3 linked regions of the Homo sapiens genome follow. The protein of the gene in region 3 purifies or fractionates together with the protein of the main gene of each other region. This does not show direct contact. Each region holds a gene or a part of one and is shown on either strand. Other genes may lie near its edges. The genes, in order: TBX20, ACADM and INKA2.

Evidence for each region.
Region 1: the proteins of INKA2 (region 3) and TBX20 purify together in Homo sapiens (affinity purification with mass spectrometry; one large-scale study listed by BioGRID and IntAct). This does not show direct contact.
Region 2: the proteins of INKA2 (region 3) and ACADM purify together in Homo sapiens (affinity purification with mass spectrometry, with the first as the bait; one large-scale study listed by BioGRID). This does not show direct contact.

The regions. Positions count from the first base shown.
Region 1 is NC_000007.14:35,236,979-35,240,700, reverse strand, and holds part of TBX20 (T-box transcription factor TBX20), read left to right. Parts: intron 1-3,722. UniProt on the Homo sapiens protein: Acts as a transcriptional activator and repressor required for cardiac development and may have key roles in the maintenance of functional and structural phenotypes in adult heart.
Region 2 is NC_000001.11:75,727,588-75,731,309, reverse strand, and holds part of ACADM (medium-chain specific acyl-CoA dehydrogenase, mitochondrial isoform a precursor), read right to left. Parts: intron 2,922-3,722; coding exon of another isoform or gene 2,910-2,921; coding exon 2,822-2,909; intron 1-2,821. UniProt on the Homo sapiens protein: Medium-chain specific acyl-CoA dehydrogenase is one of the acyl-CoA dehydrogenases that catalyze the first step of mitochondrial fatty acid beta-oxidation, an aerobic process breaking down fatty acids into acetyl-CoA and allowing the production of energy from fats.
Region 3 is NC_000001.11:111,736,596-111,740,838, reverse strand, and holds the start of INKA2 (PAK4-inhibitor INKA2), read left to right. Parts: upstream 1-1,443; 5' UTR 1,444-1,596; coding exon 1,597-1,653; intron 1,654-3,264; exon of another isoform or gene 3,265-3,388; intron 3,389-4,243. UniProt on the Homo sapiens protein: Inhibitor of the serine/threonine-protein kinase PAK4. Acts by binding PAK4 in a substrate-like manner, inhibiting the protein kinase activity.

The sequences.
Region 1 (3,722 bases), on a different chromosome or scaffold from region 3:
AGTTTCTAGAATCTCTACATTATGGGTCAGGTTTTTAACTGCCCACTTCCCCACCCACACCTACCCCAATCTGCCTTCTCACATTTTCTTCTCCAGAAAGTTACTTGCCTCCTTTTCCTCCTCCTGGTAACATGTATAACCATGTTCTTGTTGCTTCATAAAATTTAAAAGTTCAGTTTCTCTGCTCAATTAAACACACCTATTCTATCCAACTGCCCAAACTGCTGATACTTTAGATATTTTGTAAGGTTTATTCAGCTATAATTTAGGGTGAGATAATTCTGGTAAAATGATTTTAAATGTCTTTTTAGATAGTAAACCATAGTATGTAACATCAAGATATCTAATTTATATTATTGAGTTATATGCAGGGTGAGTATCCCTAATCCAAAAACCCAAAATCTGAATGCTCCAAAATCTGAAACGTTTTTGAACATTGACATGACACTCAAAGGAAATGCTCACTGGAGCATTTCAGATTTTAGATTTGTGGATTAAGGATGCTTAACCTGTAAGCATAATGCAAAATTCCCAAATCTGAGAAAATCCGAGATCCAAAATACTTTTGGTTCCAAGCATTTCAGATAAGGGATACTCAACCTATGCTTTTTACTCTCTGTTGTACATCACATTTAAAATTAATGCATTTTTGGCCAGGTGCGGTGGCACATGCCTGTAATCCCAGCACTTCGGGAGGCCAGGGTGGGTGGATCACCTGAGGTCAGGAGTTCGAGACCAGCCTGGCCAACATGGTGAAACCGTCTCTACTAAAAATACAAAAATTAGCTGGGCCTGGTGGCAGGTGCCTGTAGTCCCAGCTACTCGGGAGGCTGAGGCAGGAGAATCGCTTGAACCTGGGAGGCGGGGGTTGCAGTGAGCAGAGATCTCACCACTGCACTCCAGCCTGGGTGACAAAGCGAGACCCCACCTCAAAAAAATAATAAAATTAAAAAAAAAAACTTAAATTAATGCATTTCTTCATCCATAGGGCTTATTCCAACTTAGTAAATATTTATCAAGGCCATACTAAGGGCCATGTACTGATAGACACTTCCCATACATTTTCTTCTTTTGTGCCCAGCGTAAGCTTAAGGGGCTGTGGCAGTACTACACTCCACAGGTGAGGAAGCTGAAGCTAAGAGAGGGTGAGTAACTTCTCTCCATCAGAACGGACCAGAAATAGAATTCCTTTTCATACACTTCAATATAAAAGGAAGTCACATGCTCAGTTTACTTGACACATTCAGTTGTTTATGACCTCTCTGTGTCTTTGTATCTTGTGTTTGTTTCATTGGTCATAGGTAGCCAAGACTATTGCTCTCCTCTTGTCTTGATGTTGTTAGGTTTTGGGTTCTGAGTGAGTAGCTATTAGATGCTGCCTGGTAGATGGCTCAGAGTCCCGGGGAGGATGGTCACCTGAAAGCGAGGTGGTGTGGAGACCCTCGGGAAAGGCAAGATGAAGCTGACATCACAGCCAGCCTCACACAAATGAGGTAGTAGAAGCCTGGAAAAGGGATGTGGGCAGATGGCCAGAGTGGATGTATGTAAGGCTTACTCTCCTAGGATTTCTATACAACTTTGAGTAGATTTCATTTCACCAGTGGCTGCTGTTTTCCTTACCTAGATATTAGGGCCAAGAACTGACCAGACCATTTTAGGGGATTGCTGTGAAGATCAAATGTAGTTGTGTGTGTAGGCTTGTTTAAGCCTTTGGAAGCTGTAAGGTGCTCTGTAAATAAGACATGTGGTTATGATGGGGCTGTCTCAGAAATGTCAAAAAAAGAATTTGTCACCATTTGTATTTTAAAATTTTAGTGGTGTATTAATGAGATAGAGAAATTAATGCGTAATTGTTATCATGCCGATCATCTTACAGTAAAGGCAAGTACTGTAACCTTTGAATTATCTCCAAGATCATAACACAGGAGTGGAAACATTCAGAGAATGCCCAAACTAAAAGTTGGGGTTTAGATGGAAGCCTACAAAGGCCTAAAGCACTAATGCTGTTTCTCTGCGAATCTGGAACACTGAAACCAGCAATCCTGTTTTTAATTTATTTGAGGGCACGTGGAATGCAAATATCATAGGCTCCAAAAAGATTCCGAAAACATTCCATTCATTTATACTAATTGATTTCATAGCTTTTATAATGTACACCATGCTAATATATTATAACAATTTAAATTTATGCTCACTTAAGAAACCTTATTGATGTTTGGGAATGGCATAGACACTTCTCATGTGGAAACCTCATTGCTTTTATCATAATTCTTTTTAAAGAGGGCCAAAGCAGGAGGAGGTAAATTGTTTTCCTCTTTATTTTTTTTAGTGAAAATTATAGAGATGAACAAAAATTAAAGTTTCTAGTAAACTTTAAAGTATAATGCCTGAGATTTGGTTTAATAGGTGAGAGACCAAGACTGCGTAAGTGTTGGCGGGACCTCTCATATCATAGGAGGGTCTTATTTACATAATACAAATAACAACTAACATTTGGGTACTTACTATGTGCAAGACACCACTTGAATTCATAATCATACTTGATCTTCTCAATGATATCATGAGATAGGAACAATCGTATTTTTATTCAGCATCGTACAGTTGGGGTAATTGAGGCACTAGTTAAATAAGTCATCTGAAGTGACCTTGCTCCTCCCATTGCAGATTTGAATTCAGGTGGTTAAGATTCAAGAGGGAGTGCCCTTAACCCCTAAGCTGTGAGTGCCTGCTGTTCCCAAAGAAGCAGAACTTCACCCTCTCTCAGCTCTTGGCCCTGATAGACTCTGAGACATTGATTTTAGAGAGCATCAGCTCTTTATGCTCATTTTTTTTTTAAACAAATGTGCTGCTCACACCACACATCAGCAAGTGTAACACGATGATGATCATCCTTAACAGGAGGTCAGAATATCTGCTAGTACTCGCTGTATCCAACTGGAACCACATCTTTAATGACATTTTCTAATTTAATTCTTGTTTTTCTACTTGATTTTTTATTTAGAACAAATTTCAGATATACAAAAAACGAAACAAATAGTAAAATGAACCTCACATGCCTTCCACCCAGATTCAGCAATGCCAAATTTGCTTTCCCCCAAATTTTCTCTTTCCTCCCTCTTCCTCTCTCTATATGCAAACGTACTTCCCCTCTTCCTTCCCAGTTTCTTCCCTCCCCTTTTGAAACTAAGTTGCATGCCTCCTGACACTTCTAAACACTCTTTAAGCATATTCTGACAATGAGAACACTATTTTTGTAATCCCAACATCTTTATCACAGCTAAGAAAATTTATAAGAATTTGTTCTTTATATCACCTAGTATTCAGTTTATATTAAAATTTTCAGGATAGACCAACTGCCCCTAAACCCCCTCTGAACTAGGATCCAGCTAAAATTCATGGTTTGGATTTATTACTTTTAATTTAGAAAAATCTTTCCACATTTTTTTCTAAACACCTCATTTAATTCTGACACTGTATGCCTTGAAGAAGGCCCCACGAGTCCCATTTTGTAGAATTAGAAACTGAGGTCAGAATGGTTAAGACATTCACCCAAGGTCACAAATCTGGTAAGTGACAGAACCAGTACGAGGTTTTTGATCTTCTGGGTTTTAATTCCTCCTTTTTGGTGGCATCATGATAGATTGCAAGGCCAAGGAAGTGACCACTGACAGTGTCATCAAAAACTGACTTTGAAAATATGGGTAATGAAAATAGCTGAAGAT
Region 2 (3,722 bases), about 36 Mb from region 3:
TCTCTTTTTTTTTTTTTTTTTTTTTTTTTTTGAGACGGAGTCTCGCTCTGTCGCCCAGACTGGAGTGCAGTGGCGCAATCTAGGCTCACTGCAAGCTCCGCCTCCCGGGTTCACGCCATTCTCCTGTCTCAGCCTCCTGAGCAGCTGGGACTACAGGTGCCTGCCACCGCGCCCGGCTAATTTTTTTTTTTGTATTTTTAGTAGAGACGGGGTTTCACCAGGATCTCGATCTTCTGACCTCGTGATCCGCCCACCTCGGCCTCCCAAAGTGCTGGGATTACAGGCCCGAGCCACTGCGCCCAGCCAAATCTCTCTTTTTATTGATAAACTAATGCAGAGTAAGGAAATTCTAGTATCAGTCTCACAATGAATTAGCAGAAGTATACTTAAGAATTTCAGTCCAGTGTTCTCTCTATCACAGCTTTACTTCTAAGATTGGTGCCAGTTGATAGCAATCTTGCAGGTAGATAGAGGGTAGAGAAAGTCTGGGCACGGTAGCTCATGCCTATAATTCTAGAATTTTGGGAGGCTGAGGCAGGTGAACCATTTGAGGCCAGGAGTTTGGGGCCAGCCTGAGCAATATAGCAAGATCCTGTCTCAACAAAACATTTAAAAATTTAAAAAATCAGCTAGGTGTGGTTGACATGGACCTATTGTCCTAACTGCTCAGGAAGCTGAGGCGAGAGAATCCATGGAGCCCCAGAGGTCAAGGTTGCATCCAGCTTGGGTGACAGAGTGAAACCCTGTCTCTTAAAAAAAAAAAAAAGGAAAAATGACAAGTATGTATTATGTATTATTTATTGAGAAACTACTTTGATCCAGTCACTAAGTGCTAGGGGCTTTAAATACAGCATATAATTTAATCTTCATAGAAATTCTGTGTTATAGATATTATTTCCACTTTACAGATAAAGAACCAGATGCAACTGGTTCAAGGAATAGACCCGTATTGAACTTCACAATCTCCCTCCCAAACAATTATATCTAACTCATCCTCTGTCACTCAGTGAACCACCATAGATTTCTCCTGCAAGTCTCTTACTACTGAGAGAGAAATTTAAAGTGACAAGCAATCATACCAAATTAATGCTAATTATCTCAGTATGATCCACTACCCTGGCTGGGCATGCTGGCTAATGCCCATAATCCCACTTTGGGAGGACAAGACGGGTGGATCACTTGAGGCCAGGAGTTCGAGACCAGCGTTGCCAACATGGCGAAACCTCATATCTACTAATAATATAAAAATTAGCCAGGTATGGTGGCCCACACCTGTAATCTCAGCTACTTGGGTGGCTGAGGCAGGAGAATCGCTTGAACCCAGGAGGCAGAGGTTGCAATGAGCCCAGATGGAGCTACTGCAATCCAGCCTGAGCAACAGAGCAAGACTCAGTCTCAAAAAAAAAAAAAAAAAAAAAAAAAAATCCACCATCCCAAATGGCTATCCTCACAGTGCTTGAAAACTTTCATTTAGTCTTTGGCTACAGAAAGAGAAAAGAAAAAAAATTTTCATTTAGGTTGGGCACAGTGGTTCATGCCTGTAATCCCAGCACTTTGGGAGGCAGAGGTGGGTGGATCACTTGTCTTCAGCTGTTCGAGACCAGCCTGGCCAACGTGGCAAAACCCCATCCCTACTAAAAATATAGAAATTAGCCAGGCATGATGACCCACACCTGTAGTCCCAGCTACTCAGGAGGCTGGGGCAGGAGAATCGCTTGATCCTGGGAGGTAGAGGTTGCAGTGAGCCACTTGCACACCAGCCTGGGTGACAGAGTGAGACTCTGTCTCAAAAAAAAGAAAAGAGAAAATTTTCATCCAGTCTTTGGCTAGAAGTCACAGGAAAAAAAAAAAAAACACAGAAACTTTTCATTTGGTCTGGGTGCAGTAGCTCATGCCTATAATCCCAGCACTTTGGGAGGCTGAAATAAGAGGACTGCTTGAGCCTAGGAGTTCAAGATCGGCCTGGGCAACATAATGAGACAATGAAACCTCATCTTAAAAAAAAAAAAAAAAAGAAAAAAGAAAGAAAGAAAAAGAAAAGAAAAATTTCATTAAATTCTGGTAAGAAAAAAAAAAACCTTTATAAAGAAAAGGGAAAAATCTTTAAAAAACACAACAAATAATAAAAAAAATAACTCTGGAGAGCTTTGAGATTGTCATTTGTACCTAGCTGTGAGTTATCGCAGCTGCCTTTAACTATTTTCTGAGACCAAATAAATTGAGTAAATGGTTTTTAACTAGAGAAAAAATAAAAATTTTGAAGAAGCACTTTAGAAGGCCAAGAATGCCAAAGATAGATATTATTTCAAATTTTTTGTGTGTAGTTTTCATTTTATAGAGGGCAGAGGAAAAAAAATCATGGCTCCCTGGTCCCAGGAGTGAGAACTTCATCTAATAGTACCAAAATTGCAATTTGGATATATTATAGCAAAAACAAGCTTTAGCTTATTACCAGGCACCTAGAATTGTAATCTAACAAGTGTTTTTAAAATGTATTTGTGGCATTCAGATATGTAAGTTGAAGACTATTCATATATATCAGTAAATCTCATTTATTTTGGGCTAAACACTCAGAAAAAAAGGAAGGAATTTAAGTGTATGTATGCTGCTAAAACAGATCTAATGTACAGTGTAGTATACTGAGGAAGAAAATGAGATCAGGAAGAATGGAGTGTGAGTTATTGTAAATTATCTGTGGACAGTGGACTGGTTCTACTCATTGAAAGACATTATTAAGTTTATTTACAAACATATTCCAAACAAAACATATAAAGCTTCATATGTATAAGTTTAAAGTCAAAAGATAGAACCGAACATATACCAAAACTAAATCCTAATCCTGGTTCACGTTGTCGATTGGCTTTTGTATGCTGTGATCTCCAATGAAAACGAGAAATACTTCTCAGGACCTGTAAAGAACACTTTTATTAAAATAAATTTGATAAGTTAAACATTAATCAGATAAGAGACTACTGATAATCATAAGTGAGTACAGCAACTGGTTTGACCATACTCATAGTTTTTAAAGTCATCACTATTTAAATGCCTTCAATCATAATTTAAATAAGCCAATTATCAGTTATATAAATTCCTATTACAGAGGAGATGTTTTTAAAAAGTAATGAAAATAAAGTCAGTGGTATTTATACTACTGAAGTGGAGGGTTTAGGACAAACAACAGTCAAGGGTAGTAGTAGATGTAGGACCACTATTCTGGGTATCTTACAAGCTCCTAGGACATTAATGGTTGGAGAGTTGGGGTGGGGAGAACGATAGGCTGGAAGTGAACATACTGTGTTCAAGAGTTGCCTAGTCCATCAACTTTGATACCCTGTCACTGTGAGCCTCCCATGCATGCCTCTGGAAACCTTCCCCTCAGAGGATCTCATTTTTTAGGATACCCCACTCTAACAAAACAAATTAGCATAAAACCATGTTCTGTATTTTCTGCTGTCTACAGGGATTCTTACAATGTTCTGAGCAAGGAGTCACCAAACCAGTGCAGCCACATCATGCTGTCTATTGCCGCTTTCACAGCAGATCTAAGTAGTTACCACAGAGACCATCTGGTTCACAAAGCCAAAAACATGTACTATCCGTTCCTTTACAAACACGTTTGCCATCCCTCTTCTAAACTACTAATACACTACTTGTCTTAGGATCTGAAATATAGTCATATTTCTTCAAAGGAACATATAAAGAAACAAACAATCAAATATACA
Region 3 (4,243 bases):
CACCACGCCCAGCTAATTTTGTATTTTTAGTGGAGACGGGGTTTCTCCATGTTGGTCAGGCTGGTCTCGAACTCCTGAACTCAAGTGATCCACCCGTCTCGGCCTCTCAAAGTGCTGGGATTACAGGCGTGCGCCACCCGCGCATCTTTCAATAGTTAGCATATCTGGCACTTTTGGCTGCCACGGACGGACCGATGGCGGCGCCGGCACCGTTCGTGCCTTCTCTGGTGTTCTTACAGTTGTCCCACTCAGAGACCTCTAATCCTGCCTGGGGCAAACTTTTCCCCGTTAATTACCTTTTAACAACACGTCGCTAATTGCTTAATTACTCTCCGTGCTCTCCGCCACCGTCCCCGGCTGTCCCGGCCGGGCGCGGCGTCTCCGCGCTGGGAGGGAGCAGCGCTGGCGGGCGCGGAGCCCGGCGTCCAGGGCTGGGCTGGGAGGAGCACCCCCCACCGGTCTGCGGAGCCCATCGGCCTATCGAGCCTATTGGCCGCAACTCCATCCTCCAGGGCCTGGCTGGCGCTCGCCCGGCTCCTTTTGAATAACAAAGGAGCGTCCCGGCCTTAGAGCGCTTCGCCAAAGGCGAGAGCGTCAGCTAGGTTGACTGACGCCGAGCTCTGGGGAGAGAAAGGCTTGTTCCCTGCCCACCCCACTGAAGGCCCCAGGGAAAGCAGCCCGACCCCCTTACCCCGTTTCATGTTTTCATAAAAATCATTGTCTGAAATTACCGTGCTTACCGTGTGTGTGTGTGTGTTTACCTGTTTATCTTGTCTCCCCTTCTCTCCCATGTAAGTTCTTGAGAGCAGGGACCTCGCCTGTCATACTCAGTATCCCCAGCCCTACAGCCTTGCCAGGGGCGCAGCCGACCCTCGGCGGCTTTGTGTGACAGGCGTGAACCGGCCAAGCGGCGGCGTCTCTGCTCCGCCCGCGAGGGCAGGGCTGCGAGGATTTCACTCTAGGAGTGAGGCGGGAGCCACCTTCCCAGGGTCCTCTTCGGGGAGAAAAGAGCTTCTGAGGGACTTCTGGGGATGGGAGCGGAGTGGGTGGGGGTGTTTCCCTTCCTGATCGGAGTTTGGGAAAAGGGACTGACACTATGGCACTCTGCCTGTTACTGAGACCGCTACCCAGTCCCTCCCCGTAAAACTGTGCTCTCCCTTTATGACCACACGAGGGTCACGTGCTTCGTTGGGGGCCGCGGTACAGCCTGGAGTCACGATGCCCTCCGCCGCGCTGGCCGGGACCAGGTGTGTCCTCGCCAGCCCCAGTGGCTGCGCCCGGGTCCTGTGCAAACACTGCGGTAGGGTCCGCCTCGGCCGCCCAGCCCGGCCTCCCGGCCGCCCTGCCCATTGGCTGAAGACAGCCCCCCTGAATTCTCATTGGCTGTCCCACTTTTCCCTCCACCCCCAGCACCGACCGCGCGCGGCTAGCCGCTGGGGAAGCGACTCTGAGTCCCGGGCTCGGAGCGCAGGCTCAGCTCCGCGCTGCGAGCGCTACGGGCGCAGGGGCGGGGAGCCGGCCCGGAGCGCAGTTTCCAGTGGGGCCGGGGTTTCACCCGGGCCCTCTCTGTTTGAACCGAACCCGACAAATGGGCGCATGACGATGGAGAGCAGGGAAATGGACTGCTATCTCCGTCGCCTCAAACAGGAGCTGGTAAGAGCGAAGCTGGCGCCGGGGCAGGGAGGGCTGCTCCGCCCCGACGGGCACCTGGTCTCCGCCCCGGCCCCCGGGGAGCCGGGACGTAAGCAGGGCGGAGGAGGGCCAGGGAAGAGAGGAGAGGACGCGGGCCCGCAGGCAGAGGGCAGGGCTTGTCCTCAGGAAAGGGGACCACGAAGAAACTTTGAGCAAAGATTTGTGATGAGACAAGAACAAGTGACAGAGAGACAGAGGGAGCAAGCCAGCCAGGCTGAAATGTGACACAGAGAACCCCAGAGAGAAGATAGGGCACGCCCAGAGACGGCCAGGCACACGGACGCAGTGGGGCCCCCGCGCCGCCGACGCGGAAAGCGCGAGAGCGAAGGCCTGGGGAGCGGGACGCGGGCGCCTGGGTGCGGGGCTGCGCGGGGCGACCTGGAGCGCGGGGAGGAGGAGGGTGCTGGGTCCTGATCCCTGCGCGGGCACGAGGTCAGCGGGACTGCTCGCTCGAGGGAAGCGGGTACCACCCTGGGCCCCCAGCTCTGCCGGGCTTGGCAGAGCTGGCGCGGCTGCGGGGGCAGGCTTGGCCGGCTGTCTGCCTGGGCTTGTCTGCCAGCAGGGAGGGGGCTGGCAGCTGGAAAGGCGGGGGAGGGCCCTGCGCTGGAGGAGGGGCTCTGCCTGGCAAATCGAGAGCGGGAGCTGCGGAGGCCCAGCCAGATGTCAGGTCTGGGCTTGGGGAGTGCGCAGGGAGCGTTCGGAGGCCCCGCGGTACGGGGAGGGGGAGAAGTAGCTCAGTCTGGGGGGGTGGAAATCACCGAAGTCGGGGGAGTGGTGTTCGCTAAAGCTATGTTAGGGAGAGCCAGGTTGATTCTCACTGGCTTCATATACCACTGCCCCCGCCCCCACGCCACCTGCCACCTTTCTTATTCCTTCACCCACCGGAATTCAGGCAAATGTTATGCACATACAGCCCCATCTCTGCTTTGCCCATCTCTCCTTCCACTAGGCTCTCTGTTGTGTCTTTGCCCTCGTCTCTTTTTGTCTCTTTTAGTTTGTCTCTCTTGGAGTCGACTCTTCTCAGTCTCACTTTTCTGCTCTCCTCTTTCTTCTTACTTTACAGAGCCAGGGGCACTCAGGCCACACAACAGCAGGCCTGGATCTAGAAAGGGCCAGCTTATGGCTCTCCAGATTCTGTGACAGCGTTTCCCACTGCTGCCTGCAAAGGCTACACTCTTCCTGCTTGGGAAGGAACTTGGCAGTGTGTTAGGGGCCAGCTCTGGGGGTAGGGGGCAGAGTTTGAAACTGCAGGTGTTCTCACTGATGCTTCCTGACCAAGTAACCCTGCCACTCTTCCTGTCAGTCCTACTCCAGGGTCAGCCTGCTCACATCAACGATCATTTCTCTCTCTAGTCCTCCCTCCTGGAGCCCTTTCTGTGGTGACACTCAGATGCAAAAGTCACTGACTCAGAGATAAATTTCTTGAGAGACAGGAGTATTCATTGCTTTTCTTCTGAACTTACGCCATGTCCCTTCCCATAGTCGTTTGCACATGCTTCTCATGCCAGATTGGGATGGCTGGCCCCAGCCCACACGTACACAATTCTCATTTTTTTCCATTTATGTGTGCAGTACCAGAAAGAAAGCTCAAGGTCATCACAGATAATGTCTGAGGTCCAAGACCCATGCAGAGAAAAGAATCTAATGGAATCCTCCTTTTTGTGCTTCGAATTGGGGACTACACCACCCACCTCAGGTTCTGCCTTAATGGAGGGTTTGTGGGTGTTCCTGGCATGGGCTCGAATTTTTAAATCCTACTGATTTGCATTTTTTATAGCAGTCTAGGTGGGAGGTGGTGAGGGGAGGAAGACAGAGACTACGAGTGCCAGGAGAATAAAAAAGGCAAATAGGAATCTGCACTGAGCTGAGCTTCACATCTTGATTTGCACCCTCTCCTGCCAAGGACTTGAGCCCCCAATGCCTGAGAGGAGGAAAGGGAGAAGCTGAAGTCACGGAGTGCCCCATTAGCTTTCATTTGGCCCTTTGTCTGAGCAGCTTCAGCCTTTGACTCTCTTGGAGAGGAAGCCGAATGCCTGGCCTGGATCCCAGAATGACACTCAGATGGGAGAGCTCTGCACTACCCCCCATGGTGCTCCACCCCCTCCCCAATGCCAGCCTGCTCAGAGACGAGACAGAGCAGAAGGACAGACAGAGCTAGTAGAGTGTCACTCACTCCCTGACACCTCAGTTCAGTGCTTAGGTAGCTGGGCCAAATCTCAGTGCCTTAGTATCCCCAACAGTAGCAAAGGGGAAAGTAGAGCTGAGTTAGTCCAGGGTTAGCCCTTTGGCTGCCTTGCCCAGGGACAGTAGGGACTGAATTCAGTGCAGCTTGCTTGTGGCTGGGATAGAAGTGTGTTGACTTAATACCCTAGGTCTGCAATGGGGTGGGAAAGGAATACAGTTGGTTTCTGTCATGAGCTAGGGAGCTTTTGCACTGCAGATGGCCCATCCCAGGCAGGATCTCCCTTGCCACCCAGGAAGACATTGTGTTGCCTGGCGCTGCCCTTAGTTTGTGTTTACACAGGCATGGCCTCCTGTAATACTGGTCAAG